Regions from separate parts of the Homo sapiens genome. Here all the other regions are linked to region 1. The links come from fine-mapping of genetic effects on gene expression. A gene starts in region 1. Each other region holds a variant in brackets. All regions are shown on one strand. Distances are between the middles of the regions.

Region 1 (8,107 bases):
CACACCAATCATTCAATAAATGGCCATTTATTAAAAATCCAAGCTAAGCACTATGCTGTGATAGAGGCTAGAGTGGAAAACTACATAAGACCACCCCACTTCTATTCCTAGTACCCTCCAGTTTATTTTCCCCAGGGCAGCAATGTTGTGCACTTAAAATACAAATCTGATCATATCACTCATGTCTTTGAAAAGCTGGTAATTAAAAATGAAGAGGTAAAGTAGGCTCCAAACATTTTTGACTGCAGAACTTACAGAAAGTCTGTCACAAGGAGTGCCTGCCTTAGGTAGGACTAACAAAAGTTAATTTTAAGAAAAATGAGTAGGTGGAAAGAGAGGCTGAAGAAAAATCTGCAAATTAAAAGAATGCTCAATAGTCTAGACATAGAGTTGGCCATGGTAGTCTATCTATCTAATAAGACATTTAAAAAATATCTATCAAAAGGACCAGGGGCCTAGGTTGACAGGGAGATGCAGAACAAAGGAGTAAAAAAGAGTGGAATAAATCAAGATATTTCTAAAGGTAATAAGGCTTGAAGGAGGTAATGAGAACACCCTGGGAGAATAAGGATACATGGCTTTTGCTAAGCTATTCAATCAAAATACATGTGTCGCTCAACAACAAGGATACATCCTGAGAAATGCATCACATCTTCAGGCGATTTCACCACTGTGTGAACACCATAGAGGGTACTTACACAAAGCTAGATGGTATAGCCTACTACACACTTAGTCTACAGGGTATACCTATTGTTGTCAGGTTACAAACCTGAACAGCATGTTACTGTACTGAATACTGTAGGCAACTGTAACATGAGGATAAGTGTATTTAAACAAATCTAAACATAGAAAAGGTAATGTATTTCATTAGGATGTTATGACCACTACCTCACTGGGCAAAAGGAATTTTTCAGCTCCATTATAATCTGATGGGACCACCCTCATGTGAGCAGTCCATGGCTGACCAAAAAGTTATTACGCAGCACATGACTACATACGTGTAGTGAAGAGTAAGCTGATCAGACTGAAGAATTAAGTAGCAGAAATCGCTCTGAGGCTAGGTAGCTAAAATTAGGTATTTCAAATATTTTCTTTTTTAATGACAAAATTTAGTTAGTACACAAGTTAATCCATGACTCCTAAAAATACAGACAAGTACAAGTCTTATTGCAGCAAAATAATCACTTCACACAGATTGTTGAAGAAAAAAGAACAAGCGGTGACCCTTTAAATGTTAACAATTGTTTCTGATCTGTAACATGATGAGGGGGGGCAAGCCTGACATTTAGGGATGGCGATCAAAGTAGGAATCGAACTTTCGAATTCATCTAACTCCACTGGGATCTTTATATTCCCTCCTATTTCTTTATGGTTAGCAATTTTCAGGTAGAAATTTTAATTCCCCAAGGGAGAAAACTGAACCTCACTAGGTTTAGCAAGTTACTTTTTTCTATCCTAATAGCAAGTGCGGAGAATTATCCCTACACAAACAAGAAGCAGGCATCCGTTTTATGAGATTTTGAATTTCACATCAACATGCAAAAGACAGGCGGAAATGATTGCCCACTGAGAGGGAACTCACCTTCCAGAAAAGCAAATTCATCCACAGCTTCTATTGCATTATCTGAAACACAAGGAAAAGAGACACCTGACTAACTTCAGCCATGCTGACCTCAGTCAGAAAACAGCACAATCTGCAGTGAAGGGCATGAGGCTTTGGGCAAATGAGGGCATTTATAAGATGCGTCCCTTGCTGCCTTGAGATCCATATCTACTCTACCAGCAACTCTTATATATATTAGCTGTCTCCCTAGAAGAGTTAAGAAAAGCATAGGCAAATACCATTCAACGCGGGGGTTGGGGGCCTCCTAAATTACCCCTAAATTATTTATTCGCTTTGCTCTTAAAGTTGTCAGAGAAGAACGTGGCAATAGACGCAGGGCGCATGAGAATACGGTATACGAAATCTTACCCAGGTGAGGGTTCCCAGCCAGACAAGAGTCAGAAATCAAATCCCCAGTTGCTAGGTGAAAAAGAAATATCTTTTTCTGGTGCAATTTGGCAGAAGGTATGAAGGGATCCAGTCCGCTACGGCAACCCCAGACACCTTCACACACTGCCCCGCCACCCCAAGCAGACAGCCTCTACAGGTAGGGCTTCCTGGCACTGTGGCCAACAGAAACCATCCTGGGGAGAGACGCTGTGGCACCTCTCAGATCAGAGTGACGTCTTCTCAACCTGCACAAGGGGAAACCAGCCCAGCCCTCCCTTGTCTGTCCCCAGACACTGCAGTGCCACTCTACCCAAGTCTCTCCTCTGAAGGGTTTTCCTTTTTCCCTGCTGAGCGCAACAGTAGGCATCTTTTGCAATGGTCTCCACAAACAGTTCCTGTGAAGTAAAAAAGCAAAGTTTTAGTAATGGGTTCTAACACACTGAGGAGGTGAGGGCTCCGGTTTGTGGGTGGGGGCAGAAAGGGAGAAGAAAGGCTCGGGGCAAGAAAATGTTCTGGAAGCTAAGATTGTCCTGGACTTCATGAAGATCCATTCCGCTACCCTCTTCCCAGTATTCTCCCTCATTCACTAAAGACTCCTACAAGTTCTGTACGAGGCCCTGGAGATACAAATTAAAGTCACTCACTATCCAGGTCCTCAACAAGAGGGAGGAGTGTTAACAAAACTCGCACAGGTCCCCGGCCCCTTTCCTCCGCCTTCCGGGTCCACGCCCACATCTCAAAACCCGGGCCACGCCGCCCTAAGCCCCGCCCGCGGGAGGCCCCGAGGCCCCGCCCCACACTCCACCTCCCCCACTCCCGCATGCCCTCGCGCTGCAGGCGCACCGCGGCTCGTGCCAGAATGAAGATGGCTTCCTGTCCCGCTAGCGTCACGTCGGGATCTGCCTTCACCAAGGCCTTCACTCGCGCCAGAGGCAACCTCGAGAGACGAGCCCCAGGCACACTCGTTGGGGCCTGGGGCTGCGAGGCCGCTGCCTCCCCAGCAGGTCCCTCCTCCTCTCGGGGCGTCCCGCTTCCTGCCGCCGCCGCCGCCGCCATCCCGGCCTTGAGCGTGCTGCGCGCGGCCGCCGACTGTGCGCGCGCATGCGGCGCAGGCCCTTTCCCGCGCGGGCTGGAGGCCACACCCTGTGTAGGCGCGCGGCTCCGCCCCTACGCGGCAGTGCGCTGCCAGGAAACCGGGTGGGCGGGGGTCGGGCTCCGGCTCTTCCCACGCGCCTAGCCACCCGTGGGCTGTCGTGCACTTGGTTGACGCTACCGGCGACCCTCTGGCCCCGACGGGCCTGTGGAGCCCAGGCACCTCCCATTGGTGCCTGTGCCTGGCTGGTGAGGGGAGAAATCTAGACCAGGCTCGCAAGAGAGTCTCCGTCAAAACAGAGTGTGCATATTCCAAGGCTAACGAGGGCACGTGTCCGAGGGAGGCCCGGCCCTGGAGGGCCCAGCATCGTGGAAGAGGGTGCCAAGGAGGCAGCGAAATCTGGACCAAATTCAAGGATAACCAGTTATAGATGCTCTTGAAGGAGGGGTAGGGCTTTTGGCAGGCAGAAATGAAGAAATTCAGCCCAGCCAGAGGAAACAAGAAAAAGTCATGGAGGCTAGAAAAGATGAAATTGTGGTGGTGAGGCATCCACGTTTGTTCAAAAAGAGGTTGCATCACAGCTTTGGTTCTCAAATTTGACCTCAAGATCCCTTTACGGTCTTAAAGATTGTTAAAGAGCCCAGGGAGCTTTTGTTTCTGTCAGTTATATCAATACTTACTATATTAGAATTAAAGTTTTAAAATATTGATTTAAAATTACTAATGCGTTACCAGCTAACAAACAACATTTTTATGACAAGTAATTTTTTTTAAATCTAGTAAGAAAAGTCTCTAATGTCTGATTTCATGTGAGAACTGGATTCTCTAGCTGCTTCTGTTGCTAACGTTAGCACTTCTCAGGTAGCTCTTAAAAAACTACTACATCTTGAGAGAATGTGAATGAAAAAGGCAACCTCATAGTAGTATTAAGAAAATAATTTTGGCCTCATGGACTCCTGAAAAGGGTCTCCAGAAAATTCCCACCCCCATGAATCCCCACACCACACTTGGAGGTCTGATAGCGTAGAGGAACAGTTAATATTTAAAATAGGTTTAATCTAAGTCAATCATAATAATAGTGAACACCTTTAAACATTTACTATGTGCATGATTCAAAGTGTTTTAGATTTATGTAAATCATAACTTCTGTAATTTTCACAATACCCTATTGAGGTAAATATTATAACCTTCTTTTTCAAACCTTATTTGAAAAAATTGAGGTGCAGAGTGGTTACTGAGTCGCATACACAGGGCAGAATGTGGTGAAGCCAAGATGAAGCTGAATTAAACACATCTGAAATCACTCAGTTCCAAAATTATGTAGTAAACTCTGACTGGTGTAGGAGTGGAAAGGTGTGAAACCTTTCTTTACCCATTTTAAGGGTCACAGCTGACACTCCTATAACACACACAAAAAGCCTAACAAGTCTAATCAAAGTTTTACATGACATGAGAGTCCAAAAATGCAGACCATGAGACCTAGAGGAAACTATTTTTATGCTTAGGTTATATGAAGAAGGGATCGCTGTGTAGAAATGTGATTAGAGGCCTGGTACGGTGGGTCACACTTGTAATCCCAACACTTTGGGAAGCCAAGGCAGGAGGACCGCCTGAGCCCAGGAGTTTGAGACCAGCCTGGGCAACAGATGGAGACCCCATTTCTACACACACACACACACACACACACACACACACACACACACACACAAATTAGCTGGGTATTGTGATCCTATAGTCCTAGCTACTTGGGAGGCTGAGGTGGGAGAGTTGCTTGAGCCCAGGAGTTCAAGGTTACAGTGAGCAATGATTGCACCACTGCACTCCAGCCTGGGCGACAGAGAGAGACCCTGTGTCTTAAAAAGAAAAAGAAATGGGATTGGACAAAAAGGGAATGATAATAGTCTAATGGTAATAGACTGAATGGGGAAACCCAGCAAGGCCTGTCTGTTCATATTCTTCTTGGCCTCCCTGTGTAGCATTCCTTCTGGTATTAGGGCAGGACCCTTCTGGAATGAGGGTCTTCAAGGGAGAAGGCAGAAAATAACCTTTCTAGGTTTTACGACTTGCTTGGAGGAAGGAGAATTCTAGTTTCTATGACCTGCGTTGGGAAAGAGGAATTCTGGTTTCCATGACTCACTGCGAAGAGTGGTGATGTTACAGTGGGTAGCTAGTCAGACACGAACAGGGCAGGATAGGGCCCCCACGCTCCACCAGGAATGTCAGAAGATCATCAGGTGATGGTCAGACAGTGGTCACACCGCCTCTCTAAAATAATAATTGCTCATAGCCAGCGCCAGGGAAAGGCAGTTTCCCTATAGATAGAAAAACCCTGAAACTGATGATCAGGAGCTTCCTGATGAGATCTCAGGAGTTGGGCGAGCGGGCTCACGCATGCACACTAAGAGGCAAAATGGTGGAATTTAACTGATATATGACCTTCTGGGGGCATTCTACTGAAAAAGGGAAGAACGCCTCAGGTGAGCATGCTTACAACTTCAATAAATACACTGCACTTGCTCCCCTCCCCAGCGCTAGCAGGCTACTGTGCATTTCGACAACCCACCCCAAGGGAAGAATCAGGGTAGAAGGGATGCAAGACCCCAGAAGTATGCCAACACATAAAAACCCAAGTCAAAAGGTCAAACCTTGCACTTGTCCTTCAAGTCACCCACTTGGGCCTCTTCTCAGTGTACTTTCCTTCCTTTCGTTCTTGCTCTAAAGCTTTTTAAGAAATTTTCACTCCTGCTTTAAAACTTGCCTCAGTCTCTTCTTTTGCCTTATGCCCCTCAGTCGACATCTTCTGAGGAGACAAGAATCGAGGTTGCTGCAATTTGCTGCCAGTAACTGTAATAACTTCTACTGCTTACAGTGGAAAACAGGACAGGAGAAGTTCAGAAAGACCTTGCTTCTGAGGCCTTTCCAATTTTCTTCAGTTCAAAGTACTCAGCATTCCAAAGTACCATACTTTGGGGTATCATGTAATGAGCCCCAACCCTGAATTAGCACAGAGACACTCCACTATAGCAGAATAAGAGTCTTGGCCCAGAATTAAAATCTGCAGAAGAGGATATGAGTTGCTGAAAATTGAACCAGAGCAGCCATTAGGGCCTCAGTCCTGGGTTCTTTTCAGATTACATTTATGGACACTCTCACTCATGGAAAGCTCCACACAAAATTCATAAAAGCATGACCAGATTCTTGTGTCACAGTGCACAAGAACACCTCACAAGAGCTATACTCCAGCAATCGCAAAGTAGCTAAGTACTAAATTGACCTAAATTCTGAATTAACATAAGACAGTTGACAATGGTGGGGGTGTTACTGGACCCCACCACTTACCCAAAGTTAGCCTTTGGGTCAGGGGTTTCCTTGCTAGAGTCCTTTCGTGGTCACCAGAAAAATGTTACAGGAAAGGGGTTCTGATCCAGACCCCAAGCGAGAGTTCTTGAATCTCACACAAGAAAGAATTCAGGGCAAGTCCATAAAGTAAAGTGAAAGCAAGTTTATTAGGAAAGTAAAGGAATAAAAGAATGGTTGCTCCATTGGCTGGGCAGCCCTGAGGGCTGCTGGTTGCCCATTTTTGTGGTTATTTCTTGATTATCTGCTAAACAAGGGGTGGATTATTCATGTCTCCCCTTTTAAGACCATATAGGATAACTTCCTGATGTTGCCCTGGCATTTGTAAACTGTCATGGTGCTTGTGGGAGTGTAGCAGTGAGGACGACCAGAGGTCACTCTCCTGGCCATCTTGGTTTTGGTGGTAAGTTTTAGCTGGCTTCTTTACTGCAAACTGTTTTATCAGCAAGGTCTTTATGACCTGTATTTCGTGCCAACCTCCTATCTCATCCGCTGACTTAGAATGCCCTAACCATCTTGGAATGCAGCCCAGTAGGTCTCAGCCTCATTTTGCCCAGCTCCTATTCAAGATGGAGTTGCTCTGGTTCACACACCTTTAACGGGCAGGAGGAGTTAAGAGTTCTTGAAAGGGCTGAGTCAACTTGGCTTTCAGAGGATTCTCATTTCAACCCCCTTTTCTTCCCAATTTTGTCTCATTCATATGTTCCCTGCCTTTCCTCCTTTTCTCCTTTTTTGTTCCCCTTCGTGTTCTTTTTTTTTTCTTTTCTTTTCTTTTCCTCATCACTTGAATGTCTCACCACTTGGTGCAGTCCTTCTCTCCCTGGTTTGACTATGACTAACCAAGAGTTTATGGAGACCAGACAGGACTTCCTGACTATAAGTATTGAACAGCACTAAGGTGTGTTAGAAAGGGAAATCACGTTTCACAGTTTTTGAGTTTCAGTGGAAAAAAGGCAGAAGAAACAGGAAGACGAAGGTTGAAAAGCTCAAAAAGCCACACACGCACACACGGTTCGCATTCCAGTCCAAATAGAATGAAGGCTAAAAATATCTTTAAAAGGCTACGTGATGAAAATTAATGCAAAAAAAACATGATGTGTGTTAAGTGAAGTTTGGCCTAAAGCTGTCTCTTTACATAGTTTAAGTTTGGCCTAAAGGTTTCTTCATATGTAGAGAAATGCAAGGTAACTTGATGTGAAAACGGTCACTTACTCTTGTAAGAAATAGCCAAGTTTCAGCCAATTACAGGCAGCCAGCTGCTCAAACCAGGTTCAAACCAGGTTCAAATAAGGCAAACATCAAGCTGTAACCGTTCCAGCTATTTCTGTACCTCACTTCCATTTTCTGGACATCATTTTCCTTGTTATCCTACCATGCGGCAGGCCTAAAATCACACTGAATCTATTCTGGTTCTGGGGGCTGCCTGATTCGAGAATCATTTTTTGCTCAGTTAAACTCTGTAAAATTTAACTTGTCTAAAGTTTTCTTTTAACTTGTGAAGTATTTTATCTAATAAGCTAAAGATTAAAGACAGCTTGCCATCTACCATACTGGAGTAAGTGTCCTATCCAGGAGATAAGTTAGTGGAGGAACCAGTATCACTTCATTTCTGAATTTTTTTAAAAAAAAATCATATATGTGTTGTATGTACACGTGTGTATTGT
Region 2 (8,107 bases), 36 kb after region 1:
AGGAGGCTCTTCAGTGAACAATAGCTTGGAAACCTTTGCCCTAGAGGGAGAAACCTTCAAGCTGCCAGCCACCAAATAAGCCCACAAGGCTCACTTCCATTGTCTTCTCCTCTGCAATGCCCTTTGTCCCTACCAGCCTGAGGCAAACATCAGTCCCTATTGTCCCCTTCGGAGGTTAACCCTACCTCCAAAACCTCTTAAGAGTATCCTTTCAAAGCATGTTGGCAGAGTGGCCTGCTGAGTGTCCGATTTCTCAGTGTGTGGGTTGGGCCTGTTGTTTTGTATGCATAGCTTGGGGTGTTGATTTTTGTTCATTTGTTGGTTGGTGTGTTTTTCTGCCAAAAAAAAACTGTTAATCCACCCTACAAGAAAGGAAGGTTAGGGAAAGGGGGGACACAGTTGGAAAAAGGAATCACATTTTTCCCTTTCCTAAATAGACCCCAGACCCACATCTGCCTCTAATATTGGCAAAAGTATAAATGAAGGCAGTTGGTCAGCACCCCACCTTCTCTTCCCCTCTCAGGTCCACCAGCAGGCACTGAACAAACACTTCAGCCCGCATGCCCAAACTCTGTGTAAAGGCCGCTAATAAGAGCCACCCCTTAGCTATCCCTGAGGCCTCAGTGACCTCACCACAGACGGGACAGATGGGAAGAGGTTCACACAGCCCTGGAAGAGGCTGGGACATTTGAGCAGGGAATTCTGGGCCCTGGGTTACGAACCATGCACCAAAAGGAGGACTGGCCCTGGGTGGCACACAGACAAGGCCCATGAACTTCTTGTCCTATGGGGCGGGGCCAGCCCCACCAAGACCAGGGCAGGGCACCTAAAACCACAGCCCAGGGTTGCACCCTGAGAGAATAAAAGAGACTACCGGGGCAGAGCGGATCCTAGAAGGGAGAGGCACTATGGGGCCAGCCTCTTTCTGAAGCCCCACCCAGAGAAGCACCCTTTGCTGGAAAAGAAAACAGCAGAAGCCAAGGTAAGGGGCCATCACCCAGCAAAAGCATCCCGTGTCAGAGAGGGAAAGAGCAGCCACAGCCATGAAGCTGGCCAGTGCATGGCTTCCTTAGACAGAAGTCTCAGGGAGCCCCATTCAGGCCTGCATAAGCCCCCGGGATTCCAGCAAGACATGATGGAGGAGGTGGGCTCCCAGCAGTGGACCCTGGACTCCTGCTAGTCATAGCTGAGGACAGCGGGCCTGGGGCAGGGTTGGGAGAGCTGTGGCTGCTTACAGACTTATTCCAGGAAAGCAGAAATGTGCTGTACTTTGCCTCGTTGCACTCACCTACTTTAGGCCCCTTCCCAGTTCTGCCACCCCATTCTCACTCTTACATACACAGAGCTCTTGAGTTTACTGTCTTTCATTTTAATGCCTAACATTTAAAAAAAACTTTTTATCATGGAGAAATTCAGACAAATGCAAAAGTAGGTTAAATAGCACAATGAACCCTCATGTACCCAGCACCAAGGTTCAGCAACCATCAATTAATTTATAGTCAATCTTGTTTTAACCAAAAACCCTACTTATTTCTCCCCTCTGATATTATTTTGAGGCAAATCCCAAATATTTGGTTTGGGATTGGTTTCGTCAATTAATATTTTGAGCTATACCTCAGAAACTGATTCCTTTAAATATATATATAACCTCAGTGCCTTCACCACATCTAGATAACACAAATTCCTAACATTATCAAGTATCTGGTCAGTGATCTCATTTCCAAGAGTCTCCTAAATACCACTTTTACCATAAAACTTAAAGTATAATAATAATAAAATTTAAAAAAAAATACCACTTTTACCTGCCTCGGGAGGGGCGCTGGCTGAAGCACAATCAAAAAGCAAGGGGTGATCGGGCATGGTGGCTCACGCCTCTAATCCCAGCACTTTGGGAGGCTGAGGAGGGCAGATTGCTTGAGGTCAGTAGTTCAAGACCAGCTTGGGCAACATGGTGAAACCTCGTCTCTACTAAAAATATGGAAATTAGCTGGGTGTGGTGGTGGGTGCCTGTAGTCCCAGCTACTCAGGAGGCTGAGGCAGGAGAATCACTTGAACCCGGGAGGTGGAGGTTGCAGTGAGCCGAGATCACACCACTGCACTCCAGCCTGGATGACAGAGCGAGACTCCATCTCAACAAAAAAAGAAAGGGGCATGAAGTAAGACAGGAAAACATGTGACCCTGCTTGTGGCCAGGACCAGGCTGGTGGCAAAGTTTCAAATGGGGGACAAAAGGGTGAGAGATGGCTGGGCACAGTGGCTCATGCCTGTAATCCCAATACTTTGGGAGACCGAGGCAGGCCGATCACAAGGTCAGGAGTTTGAGACCAGCCTGGCCAACATGGTGAAACCCCATCTCTACTAAAAATACAAAAATTAACTGGCAGGTGCCTGTAATCCCAGCTACTTGGGAGGCTGAGGCAGGAGAATCGTTTGAACCCGGGAGGCAAAGGTTGCAATAAGCAGAGATCATGCCTTTGCACTCCAGCCTGGGTAACAGGGCAAGACTCCGTCTCCAAAAAAAAAAAAAAAAAAAAAAAAAGGAAAGAAAAGGAAAAGAGAAGAAAAAGAGAGATGCCCAGAGATAACCGGGGCCAGGGGCAAGTGGGGAGCAGAGAGGGACAAAATTCTCTCCCACTCTGGAAAGGTGAGGTTCAGATGAGGAGGGACTGTCAGAGAACAGCCAAATGACTTTTTCTTCCTGAGAGTTGGGTATTCTTTTTATCATCAGCGAGCAGAAGTGCTCAACTTGGCAGGTTCTGAGGATGAGATTAAATTTCCTCATGAGGCAATCATTGTGATGGTGGCAGGGGAGAGGGGGCAGGAAAGGAAGTTAGATTTGATTAGGGAATAACTGTCAAGGCCTAGCTCTGCCCCTTAGGAAAGCGAGATTCAAGGAGGAAAGGGTAGGATTTTGCCCTCACACCAACCTAGCCTTAAGGCCTGCTGCCACCAGTTACTAGCTGTGTGGGCTCGCAAGCTGCTTAACCTTTTTGAGCCTGTTTCCTCATCTCTACAATTATGAAACAGGAAAAATAAAAGGCCCCTAGAGAATTAGATTCAGGAAGTTGTGGAAAGTGCCCAGTTAGTCAGAATGGGAAGGAGCCTGCTTGTTGGTTCCTTCTCTACCTTCCGTCTTCTCCCTTGACATCTAGATCCAATCCCTGTACAGTTGAGGACACCAGCCTCTGCAGGGATCCCTGAAGACAGATTCTCAGTCATTGTCAACCACACCACCTGGTCCAGGTAGCTTTCCCACTGTTGGGAACTCCAGGCTTTCTCCTCCACTCTAGAAAGCCTGGGTGAATGCAAGTGAGGCTGCAGGGAATGTTGTCTGAGACTGGGATGGGATGGGATGGGATGGGATGGGATGGGATGGGATGGGATAGCTAAGGACAACCGTGGTGGCAGGCCACTTGAGAAGACAGGAGAGACCACAGGTCTGAGACTTCAGAGTAATCAGATAGCCCTGGAAGCTCTGAGAAGGTGGGGGCATTGGCCCAGCACTTCAGGGGGCTATAACCCATGCAGTCACACAGGCTCCATGAGTAGAAGGGCCCTGAACTTGGTTTAACTGCTGTCTACTGTTGTCATCTTGAAATTCTTAAAATTTTTGAACAAGGGCCCCATGTGTTTATTTTATTTATTTGTTTGTTTGTTTTTTACAGACAATAAAAAGTATGTTGTTTACGGACAGGGTTTCACTCTGTCACCCAGGTGAGAGTGCAGTGATGCAATCATAGCTCACTGCAACCTCAACCTTTTGGGCTCAAGCCATCCTCCCACCCCAGCCTCCCTAGTAGCTGGGGCTACAGGCACGCACCACCATGTCTGGCTAATTTTTTTTTAATTTTTGGCAGAGACAGGGTCTGGCTATGTTGCCCAGGCTGGTCTCAAACTCATGGTCTCAAGTGGTCTTCCTGAGTTGCCTCTCAAAGTGCTGGGATTATAGATGTGAGTCACTGTGCCTGGCCCCACATGTTTTTACACTGGGGCCTGAAAATCATGTTTCCAAAACTGCCCAGCACCAACCTGCCAGCTCTGGGAATTCCAGCTCAGCATCCCTGAGCACCCCAGGTGAAGAAGTGGAGAAAGGAGGGGGTTTCTAGAGCAAGTGTTTACAAGGAGACAGAAAATTGAGGGGCCAGCAAGAAAGTGGTTCAAGTGATCAACCGAGAAGGCATCTAGGATGGGTGGAGTCAGCAGGGGACTGATGTATCAGAGGAAAAGGAAAGA[G/A]TCTGGGATCTGGGGGTCTTACACATAGACACCACTAGTTGGAGCAGAGGTAGAAGTGTGATTGCACCAGAAGGACAGGGAGCTGGCTAGTCTGGGGCCACAAAAACCAGAGTTTAGGGGAAGATCAGGCAAGCTGTGGCTGTTGATCATGGGACCAGGCTGAGGATGGGAACCGGTGGGAGGATGGGAGCAGTGTCCAAGCAGCAAGTGGAGCACAGTCCCTGATATTCAGAAATTTAGGCAGGCAGGCAGCACCAGAGAAGTTGGCACTAAGGACAAGGGTCCCAGCCACTGTGCAGGGATTCAAGGACAAGACTGGAGTGGGGTGTGCCCAAGCCCTAGAGGGACTCGGGCCTGGACAGGCTCTCAGAACCGAGGCCAGAGCACCAGTGTCCCCATGCCTCCCCCAGAAAAACCCATAACAAGAGCGGCACACAAGAAAAGGGCCAGGTGGGCTGTCTGGGAAGGCCAGCATCTCCTTTGCCACGGCTCCTCCCATGGGTGCCCATTGTTACTCTGTCCATCATTACCGTTTGGCACAACCATCCCCCACAACACCTTTTTCACCCACAACACTTTTTTCTCCCTTGATAGCCTGGAGGCTTCTGAAAGGGAGACACTTTCTCCCCTTTACCTGCTCATCCCCAACACTAAGCAAGGTGTTTGGCACATAGTAAGTGCTTAATAAATGGTGTCTGGCTGGCTGAGCGCGGGCCAGCTGGAACACGGATGGTAGCCCTGCTGGACATTGAGAGGGAGGCAGGGGTGCATAAAAGGGGCATCTGCCAGCTCTGGTATAGACCGCCTGGGTTCTAACCATGCCTCTGCTACTGCTAAATGGACCATCTCGGCCAAGTTATCCAACCTCTGCCCCTATGTTTCCTCATTATAAAATGGAAATTTTTATTTTGTATTATCTTATGTACCTTTGAGTAAATGTGTACATAGCAGTTAGAATAGTGCTGGACAGCACTTTAGGAGGCGGGGGCGGGAGGATCACTAGGTCAGGTGATCCAGACCATCCTGGCCAACACGGTGAAACCCCGTCTCTACTAAAAATACAAAAAATTAGCCGGCCTTCGTCATGGGCTCCTGTAATCCCAGCTACTCGAGAGGCTGAGGCAGGAGAATCGCTTGAACCCGGGAGGCGGGGGTTGCTGTCAACCCAGATCGCGCCATTGCACTCCAGCCTGGGCGACAGAACGAGACTCCGTCTCAAAAAAAAAAAAAAGTACTGGACGTGCCACGCACTTGCTAACACTATCATTAATATGACAGGTAAATAACATCTTTGTGTGGCGTGTTGCAGCTGTCACAGCCGCCAGCAGACAGCCGACTCCCTCACCAGTAAACACCGCGGCTTAGGTGTTGCCCACCGGGCACCGGAAGGCGGCCCCCTTCTCGCTCTCCAGTGAATGTTCCTAAAACAACTGCGGGGTCCAAGAGCACAGGGAGAACAGCGCCCCTGACGCAGGCTGCGCACCCGCCCGGAGGAGGCAGTGCGTCAGTCCTGAGGTCACCGCCACCCGCTCCCGGGGGACGGCCGCCTGGGCAGGTGAGGAGGCGACCACCTCCCAGACGCCTGCCGGAGCTGCGGCGCACCGACTCCCTGCTTCTCCGAGCGGCGAGCGCCACCTGGAGGCTCCCTCGAGATCTGCATTTAGGAGGCGACGGGTCCTTTCATCGTTTTATTCATTAAACATTTATCGAGGCCTGGAGCGATGGTTCAAGCCTGTAATCCCAGCACTTTGGGAGACCGAGACGGGCGGATCACTTGAGGTCAGGAGTTGGAGACCAGCCTGGCCAACATGGCGAAACCCCATCTCTACTAAAAATACAAAAATTAGCCGGGCACGGTGGCGCACACCTGTAATCCCAGCTACTCATGATGAGGCTGAGGCACAAGAATCGCTTGAACCCGAGAGGCGGAAGTTGCAGTGAGCGGAGATGGAGCCACTGTGTGTTAGGCTCTGGCGACGTGGGGAGAAATAAAGATAATGTCTTGTTTCCCAGGGCATTAATAGCGTGATGGGGAAGACAGGCCATCAACAATGTGCAACACTAAGGGCTAGGAAAGAGGTGGATACAAAGGAGGGAATAAGGAATGTGGTCATTCCTTAAGGTGTTTATTGGTGCCAGGTACTGTTCAAGGCACCAAAAAGAATGGAACCAAACAGAGATCCTGCTCCCAAAGAGCTCATAGTGGAAGGACAGCCAGACAAGCTTAGAATTACGGGACAGGCCTAAGAAGGAGCCAGACTGGGGACCAGAGGCGTCCGAAGGGAAGTCCAGGAAGTACCGCAGGAAAACGTGATATATATTAAATCTTAAAGAATGGGCAGGATTTTGCCAGGCTTAGTGACAAGATATCTTCCGTAAAATCGTGGAACTGAAAAGAAAGGATATAGGTTGAAGAAGGGCTAGTTCTGTGTCTGAAATAGAAGGAACATGAAAGAGAAGTGCTGGGACATGGGGCAAAAAAGGGAGTTTGGGGCCAGATCGTGAAAGCCTTGGTTTAACAGGTGAAAAGTTCAAATTTGATCCAGGTAGCTGGCAGAGTCAGAGGTTCTAAAGCAGAGACCTGCTCTATAGAAAGCTCACCATGAAGTACAGCAGTGATGGTGGATGAAGATACCAACAGCTCAACCTCCTATGTGCCAGGGAAATGCTGAGCGCTTAGCACCTGATATTTATCTTAATTCTCTAAATGGGCCTATGGGGTAAGCATATTATTATCCCAATTTTATTGGAATACTTCCCTGGTAGGGCCCCTAAACAGGTAGCCATCAAATGCCTGATAAATTCCAGCTAGCTTTAAATTCTAGTCGCTACAGAGCAGAGCCCTTCCATCGCACTGAGCTGAAGGAGCCAGATGGGCATTACAGACAAGACCCACTCAGTAGGTGAAATCAACAGAGCCTAATGACTATCTAGATCTGCAAGATGAAGAATAGGAAAGAGCTAAAGACAAGATTATGATGAAAAGTTTGATTTTGAAATAATACATTTTTAAGAGCTGAGAAAAACCGTATCCATCATCCAGAACAACCGCCTATTCTACCCACACTCCCAGCACCACATCAGTACACGTGTGCCTGTACTCACCATTCTGCCTTGCCTCCTGCTGGCATGGACGAGTGCTGCGTGTTCCTAAGTGCCACCTTCCGCTGTGCACTCGATCCCATCCTCGCGCCCACGCAAGAACATCGCTTCATCAATTGGTCCTTCTCTCACATATGAAATTTTTGGTCTTTCTACTGAGTCATTCCCATAAATATACATGTGTACTACAATTTCTCTCATCGTAAAAAATAATAAAAATATTTCCTTGACCTCAAATCTCATACCCCTGCCATTCAATTACACCAATCCTCTCCAAAAGAGTTATTTATACTCAAACTCCACTTTCTCTCCTCTCGTTCTTTCTTGAACCCACTTCAGTTTCATTCTCACAACTTCACCACAATTACTCTTCAGGTCCACATTGCAAATCCAACGGTCAGTTGAGAGTCCTCATCTTAGATGACCTGTCAGCAGACTTCCACACAGTTGAGCCTATTCACTCAAGTGCCTAAGGCTATGCACATTCTTCTCTACTGACACTCACTTCCTCGTGATCCTGCCTGGCCTCACGTTTACAACTCCGAATATATTCTTTCCAGCCTGAACTCTCCTCTGAACTTCAGACCCATACATCCCCAACTGCTGACTCAATATCTGCACGTGGATGCCTAATGCGTTCAAACGTAGCATGTCCAAAAGCAAATTCCTAATCCTCCCCCTTCAAACCTTTTGCTCCCATTTGCTCCCACAGCCTTTTCCATCTCAATAAATCAAAACTCTAATCTTCCAGTTGTTCAGAATAAATGCTGTC
Region 3 (8,107 bases), 23 kb before region 1:
CACTTTTACAAACTATGTCATGAAATCACTGTATTTCATGTCACTCATGATTATGAGGGACATTAAGAGAAAACAAAAACCCAATTTAGCTTTCGTTTTTAACATGCGCCATATAGTAACAATTTAAAGAGGAGGAATCTAGAAATTATCCCTAAAATTTTCATCCAGCATTCACCAGATTAGTATTTTATTATTTCTAAACACAGAAGGCACAAAGTTTCTTTTTAGCAGGTAAGACAAATAAGAAATACTGTCACACAATGTTTTGAAATACAGTTTCACAGATGCTTATTCTGAAATGACACATTTCTTTAAAATGCATTGACAGTCTCTAGTGAATTCACTATCTTTACTCAGGTAATTTTAAAAGCTAAATGTTGATCTCTGTTTTGTGACACTGGTGTGACATCCCTGAGATGAGAGCAGATAATTTCTACAGCTGTCACTGCCCTGCAGCGCCCTAGTCAGTCTCTATTTATCTTTTCTAATAAGGTAGAGATGCGCTCATTATCGGCTCATCAAGAAACATCACAAGCTGACCAGCACAGACATCTTTTTAAAAGCATGTCTTTCTCCTTTTGCTATCCTGCACTCTATTAGGGAGTGGGGAGGGCAAGGGACATGTTGTCTGTCTTTGGCTGTCCAGCTCTCCAGCTGTCTCCAAAGAGCCCCTTCATGGTAACATTAATAATCTCAGTGAGTATTTCTCAGGCCGAGAAACCTGGGATTGTCAGCACATAAAATGAACCTTTTTCTCAGAAACATACTCTCATTAGCCAAGCTCAGTGTCTGATGTACATGTCTGGTGTTTCCCTTATGTGTCTTTGAAATAGCCCTCATTACTTATTTAGAGCTTTTGTTACCATAGGCAACCCACACTCAGAACAGGAAAGTCTGGAAGGCTCAGTATGCATTACTGAAGGCCAAGATTATAGGTAAGAAAAGCTACGATAGCAATGTCTAATGTTGACTGAACATGATGTGCCAAGCACTGTGCTGAGAGTTTTAGTAGTGTTATCTCATGGGACCCCCACAATAACCTCATGAAATTGTGATGGGTATTATTAAGCAGGCTTAGAAATGCTCATATGAGCATTCTACACAGTCATACAGTTAAGGGTTGCAAAGATGAGATGCTGTGGCTTAGGCTTCTGGATGTCCACTAAAATCTGTCACTTGACCATAATAATAAAGTTGTACCTGGGCACACGGCCTCCTGGCCAGATACTGTATTTCTTAGCTGTTTTTGAAGTAGGGATTGGCCAGTTAACTAAGTGTGGTCAATGGGATTTGAACTAAAATAATGTGTGCAACTTCTGGGTCATTGCCAACTTAAAAACAAGCACCTTGTCCTACTAACACTCTCCTCCCTCTTCGTATGAACTAGAACTAGACTTGGAGACCTCCCACCTTTGATCTAGAGTTGCTCTTTTAAGTACAGTAACCACTAGCCACCTGCAGCTATTTACATTTAAATTAATTAAAATCAATATTAAAATTTTAGTTCAATTTTTATTTTGAACTAATCACATTGGTTCAGTCACACTAGCCACATTTCAACTGCTCAATAGCCAGATGTAGCTGCTGACTGTCATATTATACACCATGGATGTAGAACATTTCCATCATCACAGAAAATTCTATTGGACAGTGCTATAGTAAGGAAAGACAAAGCAGTAAGATGAAAAGAGCCTGGGTCCCAGAATAACCCCATGGAACTGAGCTGCCCTGCTAGTCTAGATCAGTTGAAGTGTTACAAGGAAGAGAAATAAACTTCTACTTTATTTAAGCCAGTATGTTCTAGGCATATTTGTTACAACAAATTAATCTTTACACTAATACAGAAAACCGTGCCTGTCATTGCCAGGTAATTCAGCACAACAGCCAGTGAGTGGCAGTGCTCTCTGTCTTGTGTTGAGACTGGACATTTGTGTTTCAATTATTTTGGAACTGGTCCACGATGCCCCACACCCTCAATGAGGCCAGATCATCTCCTCCTGATTCTACAGCTTTTCCTTTCTCTTTCTTCCTCCCCCAACTCATCTGAAACATCGAAATATTTATAGAATTTTATAAATATGGGCATAATGCAGTCTGCAGTCTCCCAAGTATGAGTGACCAAAATGCCTCAATTCCTTCCTATATCACTTCCTGTGGGAAATTTTCTTTTAACATATATGTTTTCTGGTAGTATAGAATTTTCTAAGAACATATTCCTTGCCCGTATCCCTTGCTTGTCCGTGGCTTGGCGAGTCAGCAATCTACAAGTGGAATCACTCACGAGGACTGAAATATTCCAAGTAAATATGGCCACCACATCCTCTCATCTCCCCACAGTGAAGCAACAAGGATTGAAAAATCATAGCCAGAAATGGCCCCATTCATTCACAAAGAAAAATCAATGTCACAGTGAATGCAAATAGTCCAACTTCCCATAACAAGCACCTTCTCTCCCTACAGACAGAGTTACGTGGGAAGCCAAGTCAGCATCAAACTGTTGCTTGGAAAAGGTGGGCTCAGAACAAAGGAAGTTGGATATATGATTGCAGTGTTTAAAGGTACCTGAATGGGACAGGCTGACAGGTCTGTCTTGCCAATGGGACCATAGCACTATACACAGAGGCACTGACTAAGGCTCTAGTGACCCCATGTAGTGTAGAACAGGCCCTAGCAACATTTGTCTCTGGGACTCCTTCCTCACTTTCATCACTGACCAGTGTCCCCTACTACTGATGCCTTCTTTTAGATATATTTGATCAGGTCAAGTTGAGTCTGAGGCTGAATCGCTTTATTTTAAGGTTCTACTCTCAAGGGACAATCTTCCTACCTCTTGTTCCAAATTCTTGGGGAGAGCCCACCACAGCTTGCATACTAGAGCATATTATTCGGAGCACAAGGCTCTTGATTATGGTATTCTGAGCAGATGCTCACACATTTCCTTTGCACTACAAGAAATTTTTCAAGCAGGGACAATACATTTCTGAGGTTCAGATAACTTGTAGTGAATGATACATGAGAACTCTGTGTATTAAACTCCGTATGTGGCTTGAAAAAAGTCTGGGAGGCTTCTGGGCCAGAATCCGTTGAAAAGTGTAATTGTCATTTCTCAGAAAACTCAAGGGAAATTTCTAAAATCATCACAGCCTAACCCTGATTTTGAAATCGCCCTTGCAAAGATTGTAACAGTGAGACAAATATGGCATGGTTGACTCCATCTTGCCTGTAGCCTCACAGGCTCTCTCCCAAGTAGCTGGGATTACAGGTGAGTGCCACCATGCCTGGCTAATTTTTGTATTTTTAGTAGAAATGGGGTTTCACCATGTTGCCCAGGCTGGTCTCGAACTCCTGGCCTCAAGTGATCCTCCTGCCTCAGCCTCCCAAAGTGCTGGGATTATAGGTTCATGCCACTGTGCCCAGCCCATGTATAACTCTTTTAGTGGATATATGTTTTCATGTTCCTTAAGTAAGTGCCTAAGGCAATTGCTAGTTTATAGGATAGGTGATGTTTAGTTTTATTGCAGTAACATTTCAAATGTTGTCTTTAACACATGAAAACATGTACATCACATCCTTGGACAAGCTTAGGTGAGGATGGACAAGACACACAAAGGTATTTACACTTACATGCACACACTCTCTAAAGAGGACATGTCATTAGCATGATTAATTATTGGCCACTATCCAGTTCTGTATGTTTGTAACTCTCCATGGAGAAATGGAGATCTGGGACAATGGGTGGATTTTGTTTTTAGGAAGTCTGACTTCAGAGGGAATTAAATTGAAGGCCTCAAGTGATTTGCTAACCGGGGAGAGAAATCAAGGAGTAGGTATGGCCAGCAGGCTGCCACCAATGAAGGATTGAAGAGGTGGTCCAATATTGCCTTGTGGTAAGCCCTCACAGCACCACCCACACAGTCAGTTCTACTCGTGTCTGGAAACCTCATTTTGACAGCTTTCAGGGATCTTAGAGACCATCGCAGTGTAGCTTGCTGAAAATAAGCCCTGGAATCACATTGGCTGGATCCAAATCCCAGCTTTAACCCTAATTCCTATGTGACCTTAGGTCTAAGCCTCAGTTTTCTCATTTGTACAATGGAGATAATAGTACCTTCTGCACAGAGCTGTCAGGAAACTTAAATGAGATCTTGCACCTCGAGTGCTTAACACAGGGCCCAAAACAATGGATGCTCCAAGTACACCCTCTATCGTTATCATGTCTACATCCTCGTTTTAGAGAAACAGTGGACCAAGAAAGCAGAGTGTCCTGCCAGTGCTAAACAGCTAGGAAAGAGCAGAGTGAGAGTTAACTTAGGTCTGTTGACTCCAAATCCATGCCCCTTCTGCCTCAGCATGCTGCCTTCTTCAATGAGGCTAGGGGCTCAAAAAGACAACTTTCTCCAACCTATCTGGGCCCAATGCAGTCTGTGCAGAAAACCTAGAAGACATTTGTGGCTGAATGCAGGTCATTCCTAGAGAATGAGGGGGGTGGAATCATGGAATTACAGTTCAGGCTAGGCTCCACCACTTAATTTCTCACTCTCTTTATTACCTATACTATATTATCACTGAAATTTTTATTCTGAACCATTTAAGAGGAAGTTGCACTTGTGAGCATTCAAGCTCACTCTTTTAATATCTCTGAGCCTACTTCCTCTTCTGTGATGTGGGAATAATAATGCATCATGAGAATGCCTGGCATATTGTAGCACTCTACAAGTGAGATCCTTGTTGCCTTTGGGGCTCTAACTCCTGTACTGGAACAGAGATCATTGTCCAAGAGGAGCTATCACCTCCCAGGTCCCAGAGAACACAGAGAAAAAAAAGTGTAA[C/A]CTGGCTTCCAGAAAATTGGGAGATTTTATCGCTCTTGGGAAACCAATAGGCAACACTGGGACAAGCAATCTCAGGGCCAGCTCAGAGATTTACTGTTTAGTCCCAGCCTAGTATCACAAAGTTTTTCCAATCTCCTCCTAGTTCTTCTGGTCCCTCCTCACAACACAACAATGTGCATCATATACTAAGCAATGCAGAAAAAAATACAGACAAAGGATTAAAAAAAATTGCACCACCTAGAAATAACCATCATTAAGTAAAAATCACTTTACACATACTTCCATGAGAGAAAGATGGGTAGAATGAGCAGACAGGTAAACAGAAATACTTACATAAAATAATACAACACCTGCTATTTTAATTACAAAATACTAAAGTTGCCTTTAGAAGAAAATTTAACAGAAGGAAAAGCTCCAAGTGAAAATGAACTTTATGCTGGACTTCGAATGTTTCTTTGGCATAAGAAAAATGATTTCTGAACACACTCCTTGAAGGTTAAGAGACTATAAAAATTTAAGAAATTCAAGCTATTTTTAAGGTCAGGCATGGTGGCTCATGCCTGTAATCCCAGCACTTCGGGAGGCCGAGGCGGGTGGATCACAAGTTCAAGAGATTGAGACCATTCTGGCCAACATGGTGAAACGCCGTCTCTAATAAAAATACAAAAATTAGCTGGGCATAGTGGTGTGTGCCCGTAATCCCAGCTACTCGGGAGGCTGAGGCAGGAGAATCGCTTAAACCCGGGAGGCAGAGGTTGCAGTGAGCTGAGATTGCGCCACTGCACTACAGCCTGGTGACAGAGCGAGACTCCGTCTCAAAAAAACAAAGAAAAAGAAAAAGAAAAAAAAGAAATTCAAGCTTTTTTTTAAACCATGTTTCCGTTTTAGAGAATATAAATTGACTGGCAATGAAAAGTGAGGTCTGCAACCTCCCCTTCATTTCTTTACGTATTAGTTAGCTTTTGGGCTCGTTTCATTGAGTTTATGATGTTACTATTCTGTAATTCAAACACTCAGGAGGAATTTTCTTCTGTACCTTGGACTATGCTTTCTTCTAGACTGGGCTCCTTGCCTTTGGACACTTTTTGGTTTTGCTCTTGCTTATTATATAGTTGTGCTATTTCTTTTCACTCTGCTCATGTTTGGGCAGTCTTTCCATTTTGCTGTGATATAATAATAACAATATTACCTGACACAACTATATGGCACTTAATATGTGCCAGGTGCTGTTCTAAGAGCTTTCCATATATTAACTCATTTAATCCTCACAAGAATCCTGAGGTATTATCACTATTCCCATTTTACAGATTAGAAAGTTTCAGCACAAAGAAATTAAGTGACTTGTTTAAATAACTTAATCTTTTTTTTTTTTTTTTTTTTTTTTTTTTTTTTGACACAGAGTCTCGCTCTGTCGCCCAGGCTGGAGTGCAGTGGCGCTATCTCGGCTCACTGCAAGCTCCGCCTCCTGGGTGCACGCCATTCTCCTGCCTCAGCCTCCTGAGTGGCTGGGACTACAGGCGCCCGCAACCACGCCCGGCTAATTTTTTGTATTTTTAGTAGAGACGGGGTTTCACCATATTGGCCAGGCTGGTCTCAATATCCCGACCTCGTGATCAGCCCGCCTCGGCCTCCCAAAGTGCTGGGATTACAGGTGTGAGCCACCGCGCCCGGCCGTAACTTAATCTCTTAATGGTGAAGTGGATATGACTCACAGAGTCTCCTTTCTCGAATGCCTCCTAAGTAGCAGATAAGAAACTAGGGATTCTGGCTCCGGCATCCATTTTCTTGGCCACTTTACTTTCCACTACACCTGAGGTCAATTTGTGCTCTCAACTGAGCTGCAGTTTGAGGGCGCTTCTATGTATTTCTATATACCTGACCTGAAGGTATGGTGAGTGGAGAGGGACGATTCAGCTTAGAAGGTGTGCCATCTTGGAGGTTTAACACACAGTACTAGGATTTACTCCGCCTACTTGGAGCTACATTCCATCCCCTTAGCTCTAGATGCATCCTCTAGCTTAGCCTATAGCCCTCACATCCACTGAAGAGTTCATCTCCATCTGCTTCACCCATTTCTCCCCAGGAACCCTTTCCACTTCTCCACAGTCAGAAAAGGGAAAAGCTACCAACCCTTTGGTTTAATTTCCTCCTGACTGAGAGTATAAAAACTCTCCAAGATTTGGGTGACTTATAGTTATGACTTCTGGCAGACGGGTTTAGAAACCTTTCTGTGTCATGCACTTCCTCTCAATTCTAGAATCTTCCATGTCATTCCTTATTTGCTTGTTAAAGTTTGTGGCACTGCAACGTGCCCCATTCCTTGACTGCTGGGGCAAAATATTTTGCTAATTTGTATGAACTTGGTGGGGGGGGGGCAGGGATTGCTCATTTATTAAATTAGGCATTAGAGAGACTGTGAGACATATCTACCTCACCATCCTGATCCAGATATGCATACAGCATACCATCCATTTTTCTTGAAGATTCCAAGTTAGCTAGATATTGTAGATCTGATCAGGGAAACTAGCTTCCTACAGGAAACGAAGGAAGAAGAAACACAAAACTTTAAACAGTATAAAAAATACAAGATGGTACAGAGAACATTCTGAGCTAATTAGGGGAAAAAAAGAAAAATGCTTTAAGTGTTAAGATGTCCAGAGATATGAAGCCTTGAATGAGGAATGTCAGATCCCTGATTCAGATACAATGAAGAAATCAGGAACACATTTTAAATTTCCTAGGTCGAGCGCAGTGGCTCATGTCTGTAATCCCAACACTTTGGGAGGCCAAGGCAGGTGGATCACTTGAGGTCAGGAGTTTGAGACCAGCCTGGCCAACATGGTGAAACCCTGTCTCTACCAAAAATATAAAAAATTAGCCGGGTGTGGTGGCACGTGCCTGTAATCCCAGGTACTTGGGAGGCTGAGGCAGGAGAATCACTTGAACCCAGGAGGCGGAGGTTGCAGTGAGCCGAGATCATCCCACTGCACTCCAGCCTGGGCGACAGAGCAAGACTCCATCTCAAAATAAATAAATAAATAAATAAATAGGACAGTTTTCTACTTTTTAGCATAATGTTCTCTGATTCTTTTTGAATATTAGTCCTTCACACTGTTAATATCAGATTTCAATAGCTTGCTTTTCCCCGTCTCCAAGCATGATCTTTACCACCAGGAAATTCTGCTTTAGTGCTCCCAGTCAGATATACTGGGAATGCCTGGTCTCTTTCTGATCCATTAGCCCGTGACTGATAGACACTGAGGCAGGAGGAGGGCACA
Region 4 (8,107 bases), 64 kb after region 1:
CTAAAACCATGAAGCCCTTTATGCCTTTAACCAAGGTCTCCAAAACGGGAGTGAAAAGCTGCAACATTTCCAAGATCCAGACTACTCCCAACGACAACTTAAAAAAAGGAAAGTTTCACCAGTTGCAAATGGGGTGCAACTCACACCTCCATCTGGACATATTCTCTAGGGTCCCAACCTCTCAGCTGGTCACCTGCATCAAAGACCCAACAACACATGTGACCCAACGGATGGAAAATAGAAGCAGGAAACCTGATGCTGTTCATGAGGGAAGAAAGGATTACAAATGACTGGATACCTCCAAAAGTCAAGAGTCATAGAAATGTAAATTCAAGATAAGTAATTTAAACTCTCATAAATGCTTTTTTTTCCCCCTACTGAGTCAAAGGACTTTTATTTCCAAAGAACTGGTTCCCTGACCAGGAATTGAACCTGGACTAGAGCACTGAAAACACTGAATTCTAACCACTAGACCACAGGCTAGAGTGCGTTGCTTATAAAATCCAAAGCAGACAGTGTGAGCATTTGAAGGATATTAACTTTGTTTTAAACCTAATATTTTAAACCTAATATTAGGTTTAAAACAAAGTTTTTCTTTTATTCTTGTCAAATAAGTCTCTGAGGCTATATTTCTTTTGTGTCTTTTCATGGGTACTAAGAAGACAGTCATGGGAACCCAGGACTTGACAAACTGGCAAAACAGTTGTTTAAATACGGCTGATTTATTTATCCCATAAGTGACTCAAACCAATAAGCCTTCTTTATGGAAAGTCCCAAAGGTAACTTTCTAGATTTACAATAACATGGGGCATTTTTTAAATGGGTGCAAAAAATGCAGCCCCCATGATAAAAATATACCATGGTCACTAAACCTAAGGCAAGTCTGTACAAATGCTTTTCTCCCCCACTAACCTGAATTTGGAAAGGAAACAGAGACAGTGATTTTTACCATCTGCTCTATTGGATTCCATAGACAGACACCTGGGAATCTGACTGGTGAGAAATTCTTACCCTTTTTGCCAGTTTGTCAGGTCCTAGATTCCCTTGACTGTGGTTTCCAGAAGAGCAGACTAGATGTGGTTTATCCTGCTCACAGCCTCAAATCTGCAGAAGCAAAGAGAGAAACCTTCCCCCTCCACCCTCTGAAGGTTTTCTGAAGATGAACTGACAAAAGGCAGATTAATAGGATTGTTCTCCTATTGCAGTTTTATTTTGTGTACAAATTTATTTTAACATACATAACATGGAAGAATCACAGAATGATTACCCAATAATGTAGTGAAGTCCAGATGCTTATAAACCCTTCTTCATAGGGGAAGGAGAGATAGGGGAAATGTGATGACTTTTTCAAGGGGCGGAAATGTTTATTAGAGAGAATGAATGTGCCAGGTAGACAGAAATTAACTTGTAAATGATTCTCTTTGGAATTTGAATGAAATGCTGGAATCCACAAACATTATCTTGTGAAAAAATCCATCCAGCTGTGGTTGCATTCCTCAGTCTTCCTTTCTGCAACAGATAATAAAATTTCAGAGAGAGGATAGAGGACAATTGTGTTCTTCTAGGTGGGTCCGGTCCTTAAGAGATTTCAGGGAAAGGACAGAAGGCAGTTGTGTTCTCCTTGTGAGGAGGGGGTTCAGTCTTTACACAGATCAGGGAATATCAGAGAAAAGCCTTATCCTTTGCTTTGGGAGAAACAGGGGGTTGAGGGTGGGGCAGGAGTATATAAAGACCTTGAGGTTGCCTCTTTATTCAGCATGTCAAAGGACCATTATTTTGGAATATCGTTTTCTGAGTCCCATTAAAGGACATGGCTTTCTCCTGTGGTGAGGAATCCCACAGAGCAGGTGGGAGTTGGGCAGGGAGGCAGCCCAAGCGAAGCCATGAGCATGGGGAATCCAGGGCTTGGAGGGCATTCTAGTGCAAATACCTGCGTTAAATTATACACTAAAAAAAGTGTGTTTATCCATCCTTCCATTGCTACAAAGAACTGCCTGAGATTGGGTAATTTATAAGAAAAGAGGTTTAATTGACTAATCGTTCTGCAAGATGCACAGGAAGCATGGCTGGGGAGGCCTCAGGAAACTTACAATCATGGCAGAAGGTAAGTGGAAGCATGCACATCTTCACATGGCCAACAAGAGGAAGAGAGAGAAGGGGGAGGTGCTATATAGTTTCAAACAACCAGATCTCCTAAGAACTGTATCATGAGAACAGCAAGGGGGAAGTCCGTCCCCATGATTCAATCACCTCCCCCCTCACCAGACCCCTCCTCCAACACTGTGAATTATGAGATATGTGACATGAGATATGGGTAGGGAGAGAGAGCCAAACCATCTCACAAAGTATCTTCTGAATGTTTTGCCAGTATTATGGTCTGTGGAGAATGTGTCTATGTCCACTTTGAGCCCCCAGTGGGAAATGGGAGTGCAGATCTTCCCTGAGGCTGTGAAGTGGGGGCAGCAGTGGCCTAGGGAGGGTAGGTGGCACCAAAACTGCACTGAGTAGCAGCCTGGCTAAGGCTGGTGAACACCACCAAGCTGAACTGCAGCATGCAGACTCCCAGAGGGGTGAGTCATTTGAGGGAGAGCTGCTGAGAAAGGGGGCTGAGGCCTCTACCAGAATTCAGCAAGGCAGAGGAGGCACTCAGGGAAACCCATTACAACTCTTATGTCATATATCGTAATTTTTAACAAGTATTTTTTTTAACAAAAACAGGATCACAATACACTGTTCTGAAATATTCTTTGGCATGAAGCAGCATACTGGCAATGTTTTCTATATTACTAAATGGAGAATATTTAGTAATAACCCTGCTCAATAATATTCTATAAAACCACATAGTGGTTTTATAAGTCGCATGCCGGTTACTTTCCTAATTGCGCCATATCACAGGAGGCTCCATTTCCCAGGCTCCCTGTGCCAACACACTTCCTGCTAGGTTCAACCAATGGAAACACTGCAGAAAATGAGTGGGCGGGAGGAAGGCAGAGAATTTCTTCATCTCCCACCCCATTCCACAGTCCCAGTACTTGCCCCCTTACCCCAGCTTTGGGACTCGGATCCAGCCAGTGGGATTGAAGCTACTTTTCTTGATGTTGCTAATCCCTGGGTTGCTTCTCTGTACTGCTTGGCTTCTCAGCATTGCCGTCACCCTATGCAACCAAGTCACAGTATTAAAATGTTTACAATGACTGGAATGGATTGTTTTCCTGACTGTACCCTGATAAAGGGTGAGTGGGTCTATTATATAGAGACGGTTTCTCTCTTTAGCTATTATAAGCCATATGATAGTCAATATCCTTAAAGTTAAATCTTAGTCCTCAACTATATGTATTTCCTTAGCACAAATTTCTAGAAAATTACACAAAACCTGCTGTGAGGCATATTGCCTGTTTTCCCCACATAAGGGCTATACCAATCATACTTCCACCAACAGTGTAGGAGAATGCTCCCATAATCTCACCAGTTTGATATCAGAAAAAATAGGGTCTAATTTTAAACTTTCCCTCACCCATTGGCTATCTCCATTATCCTCTTAGCCATGGTCATCTTCTTCCCTCGGTTATTGTCAAACAGGGCCATGTGAATGTTAATGGGTATCACTAGGGACTTTTGATGAATTTACTCCCCAGACCTGTGTTCTGCTTACTGGGGAGAAGGAAAAGCTTGGTAGGGAGAGGACAGAGGCAAGTGCTTTTTGGATGTTCACGAGAGCTATATATCCTGAATATGAATCACATTTGCCAACCAAGACCAGCCAGAGGCCCTCAGGGTGGTGCTAATTTCAGCCAAGCTATTTAAACAGTAGACCGCAGGACTAGCCATAGCTCTTCAGTGGCTTGAAATCTAAGGGGTCCAAGGCAGTCCAGGAAAAGCTGCCTTCTAATTCCACTGGGACTGAGTTTCTGGAAAAGCCACATGCCTCTCAAACACACACACTCAAAATCAAGACACCCATAAATTACTCATCGGGCTGGCCAGGAAGTACTGATACGACC[G/T]GAAGATGACTACTCTCTTAAAAACACTCATGAATCACATTTGATTATTTTGGAAAATGTTAAAATTTATTAATAATAGTTAACATCACATAGTTAATTAAACTAGTTATGTATTGTACATAATGACAACATCTTCACTAGACTGAGTGCTCAAGGATTTGAGATGATTCGCTATTCATCACACCCCGAAGATTGAGATCCACTGTATTTACACAAAGCAAAGCCATGTCAGCAAGGGACTGTCAACCTGATTCTGAGAACATAAACATTCAAAATTTATTTTCCAGTGTTCCTTTTTGGAAACCAACAACACATCTTTAATACCTACACACACACACATCTCTACCTTTAAAAAAAAAAAAAAAAGTGTAACTTCACAGATAGTACCTAATCTTCAAGCTTAAAATTTAAGTTAAAATTAATCTCTATTTTGTGGGCACCCTTTAGTGAACTAAAATCTACATGAAACCTTTTGGCTTTTGTGTAGCAGGAAATACCCACGTTTTGGGTCAATTAGTGCAGATGGGAGCAGCAGAGGAGCTACACCAGACAGCAAAGCAAGACTAGAGCAAACGAGAAGGACCAGCCCCTAGCCCCTCTGTGCTCCCGGGAGGACCTGGGCTGTTTTCACCTAATTACACCCAACTTTGCTTAAAAGTCGTATAATCAGACACTATTCTCAGCACAAGTTTGATAAATATACAAAAACCAGGTTCAATTTCATCGTGAGTTTCTTTCCATTCTGATCCTTGTATCCAATTCAATAGTTACATCCCTCTTTATCATATAGTATCCAGGTTTAATGTCTGTGCTTGTTTGTATTTTAGGACAGAGGCGGGCTTTCAGATTCAGAATCAACTGCACTCTTGAAAAGTAGGGATGGAAGTTTTTAAGCCACTCTCATCCCTCCCAATAGTTTGAAATAAATGTTGTGTATAAAAAAAAGAAAAACACAAAAACAGGTCAGCAGACCAATGCCAGCTCAGCCTAGGGAAGCACATGGACAATTCTTGTAAAACATTTAAAATACAAACCCAAGGTGAAACTTGCTGGGAGGGCTCAAATACACCAAAAATGTTGTCCCTGAGGTTTTATTTGGCTGTTTAATTGTTCTGTTTTGGTTTGTTGTTGAGGATTAGATACAATTTAAAAAAAGAAATTTTGGTGACTTCCTTTATCTTGTCAGAAAGCTTTAGAATACTACTGACTGCCCTAAGAATAAAGATTTCTAAGCCATGAGTCCATTTGAAACGATTCCTTTGGTTTCCTTTGCTTAACATCCCATGGAATACTGCCAAGAAAATCTCTAGATGGAGGAGCCAATTGCTGTGGTCTCTTCAGTCTATTGGCTCGGCCTCCATCTCTGTCCCTGCCTTCCACACACTTCCAAGACCACAGGGGAAGGAGGAGCCAGAAGCAACCGCTTTGCCATTCACTCACCCTGAAGAGGCTTCCCTTCTCTTCCCACAGGCGAATGAGGTATTTCTATGACTAGTCAGTATCTTCCCCTTCTGCCCTTTAACTACACTGAGGCCAATTCTGACAAGACTTGCACATCTATATACATAACAAATTAACATATAAATACATTACGTACAACTGACCATTCATTACATGTCAAGATGAAGAAGCAGATCTACTCAAGAACTAAATAAAATTTCAAATATAAATTAAAATGAAAATACAGTGATTCCACTTTTGCAGGAAAAATTTGTAAAACAAACTAAAAACTCCCCCTTCCCCAAAGGTCCATTGCTTGTGGATAACATGTGCGCCCCGCTGAGATGCGACAGCTGGCCCAACTGCAGGATGCGTCAACTCCTGGCTTTGGTTTCATTGCCCAGACTCAGGATTCCTTGATTCCAGGAATGGCAAATGCTGGAATCCACAGGGCAAATGCTTGTAGATGAGGTTAAAGAGGGGCTGCTGCGTGGATATCCATGGATTTTCCTCCACTGTCACCCCTCCACCCTCCCCACGTCTGCCTATAGGATAATCAGGCTCACATCCTCAGTGGAGACCTCCCAGATCTCTGACAGGAGAATCAGTAACAACATCAGTGCTGGGGGATGCACCCCACTTAGAAATGTCATGTTCAGGCTCCAAGGTGAAGCAACCGTATCTTCATTAGTGTCCCCATCCTGTAGAATTATACAGGGACATGGAATTTGGCAAGGGGGATTACTAAGGGAGATAATTTTCATGTTTTAGGAGAACCAATGGGAATGGTTATGATGCATGTGAACAAATCCTTATTTGGAACTCTATTTATCTTAATAGGGCCAAGCTCAGCCACCAAGCTCTACAATGAGATGCAGAGACAAAACCCAGTCCAGTGGGGTCCTCTCTGCCAAGCAAAAGCCAAGGGGTCTGTCTCTGACACAAGGGGATGACATCTTATAATTTAAAACAGGGAAGAAGGAGAGAAAGAGGAAGTCCCTTCCGATTTCAGGGGTTCTATCGCTGTCCAGCCTCACGGATGCGGCAGGCCACAGCAGTGATGAGCGCCGCCCCCTTCCCGCTGCCATCCTCTGACTGCAGGAAAGACACATCACATTTCGGAGCCAGGTCCTTCACTGTCTCATGCATGACTTTGGCAAAGCTGGAAAAGGTGGGAGGAAGACACAGGAAAAACCATCTTAGTCATGATTGGTTTGTATTTGCACTTAGAAATGAAAGCTAAGAAGCGATGCTGGAAACACAGAAATAATTAAGAAGAGGAGAAGGATGACAGCTATAATGTATTAAACATTTACTATATATTATTAAGTACCAGAAAACCGTGGCTTGGAGACACTAGTACTATGCCCAATTTCCACATCATATCAGCCATTAGGAGAGCTAGGATTCAATTCTGGGACAAACGTCTGAGATCCTGGCAAACTGTGTTCTTAAAACTAATAGTCAGTAAAAGAGAAGTTCAACAACCATGGAAGCCACAAGTGTGCCTAACAGAGGAGCACAACTCTGGAGGGGGAGACCAGGACCAGGACTCATGAATGTGATTTTCTATTTTCCTGGCGCATAGCCTCATATCAGAGCCACATGTGCTCCAAAATGTCATCGGAGGCAAAAGAAGCAGACTTACAGAGTCACTGCTAGGATATCACAGTGATCACAGATCCTTCCTATATGGACCAGAGAAAGAGAGAGTTGTGATCTGCCCCAATACAGCAGGGTCAGGACACCCTCCCCATCTACAAAGCTGAGGATGCCATGTCCCAGGGTTGGTGGCTGGGCTTCTGCCCCCTCCCAATCCTCATGAAACTATATGTACAATAACAGCCTGTGGCTGTTGCCTGTCAACCCCTGCTCTAGAATGTTGAAAAAAAATCTTGCTCCAGAGTTCTAGCATTACATTTGCCAGAATGTTCACAGTAGCACTGTTTGTAATGGTCAAAATCTAGAAGTAACCTAAATATCACCTCAACGATAGAAAAAACAACATACTCAAAGGTACGCTATACAGCTCTGAAAATTAATGAACTACCAACTGTATACTTCAATGCGGATGCGTCTCAAAACAAACACTGTGTGAGAAAAGCCAGCCACAGAAGAGATACCATGTGATTCTATTTGTGGCAAGTTCAAAAATAAGTAAAACTAAACAATATGGATGCATACCTACATATATGGGGGTGGAAAAGAAAAGCAAGGGACTGATTCAGCACAACACTTACCCCTGGCATGGGAGAATGATGACACAGTTGTGGAGGGGCTCGGAGGGGGCTTCCCACGGTGGGGGGTGAAACACAGGCCTACTTCTGATTATGAATCTTTAAACTATAATCCATGTATTATATACACTATTTGGAATGGCTGATAATTCACTATAAAGTAACAAAGGAAAGAGAGAAAGAAAAGGGAAAGAACAAAGACAGAAAGAAGGTAGGCAGGGGGGGCTGGGATCAGGCACTCACTGAGGATGTAGCTTGTAGAGGGTCCCATCCACACCCACTGTCACTTTGAGAGCGTCCAGCCCACGGTTTTCTCGTATCCTGTCCACCACAGCGGCCATGCCTGCGCCACAGAGCTGGGCTGCCCGCCGGGCCACCACAGTGCACACCTCCTTAACAATGATGCTGTCGTCACAGGTGCTCTCAAGC

Which allele goes with the higher level. Alleles are on the strand shown, and positions count from the first base shown. SD is a standard deviation of normalised expression in the study named. Not every link is listed here.
As copies of G replace T in region 4, the expression in aorta of the gene that starts at base 3,086 in region 1 goes up (small effect, 0.31 SD a copy in GTEx).

Evidence for each region.
Region 2: its variant is fine-mapped to the expression of POLE4 in blood mononuclear cells (TOPMed, PIP 0.96).
Region 3: its variant is fine-mapped to the expression of POLE4 in whole blood (TOPMed, PIP 0.97).
Region 4: its variant is fine-mapped to the expression of POLE4 in aorta (GTEx, PIP above 0.99).

What each region holds. Positions count from the first base shown.
Region 1 is chr2:74,953,622-74,961,728 of GRCh38, reverse strand. It overlaps POLE4 (DNA polymerase epsilon 4, accessory subunit), which reads right to left and starts at 3,086. Exons shown (of 4, transcript NM_019896.4): 1 at 2,837-3,086; 2 at 2,304-2,388; 3 at 1,583-1,624. The coding sequence starts at 3,049. It overlaps LOC105374809 (a long non-coding RNA gene), which reads left to right and starts at 2,850. Exons shown (of 5, transcript NR_187884.1): 1 at 2,850-2,997. RefSeq lists silencers at 2,638-2,877, 2,948-3,207 and enhancers at 2,499-2,999, 3,000-3,500.
Region 2 is chr2:74,917,691-74,925,797 of GRCh38, reverse strand. The region is part of intron 1 of LINC01291 (long intergenic non-protein coding RNA 1291); the gene reads right to left. It overlaps LOC105374809 (a long non-coding RNA gene), which reads left to right. Exons shown (of 5, transcript NR_187884.1): 4 at 524-982; 5 at 5,512-7,572. Among named protein-coding and RNA genes, the nearest start is that of LINC01291, 13 kb to the right of the region's middle. The variant G/A (reference allele first, on the strand shown) is at 4,234.
Region 3 is chr2:74,976,570-74,984,676 of GRCh38, reverse strand. No RefSeq gene overlaps it. Among named protein-coding and RNA genes, the nearest start is that of POLE4, 22 kb to the right of the region's middle. RefSeq lists an enhancer at 224-725. The variant C/A (reference allele first, on the strand shown) is at 4,830.
Region 4 is chr2:74,889,293-74,897,399 of GRCh38, reverse strand. It overlaps HK2 (hexokinase 2), which reads right to left. Exons shown (of 18, transcript NM_000189.5): 17 at 7,922-8,107; 18 at 4,041-6,603. The coding sequence ends at 6,459. Among named protein-coding and RNA genes, the nearest start is that of LINC01291, 16 kb to the left of the region's middle. The variant G/T (reference allele first, on the strand shown) is at 4,002.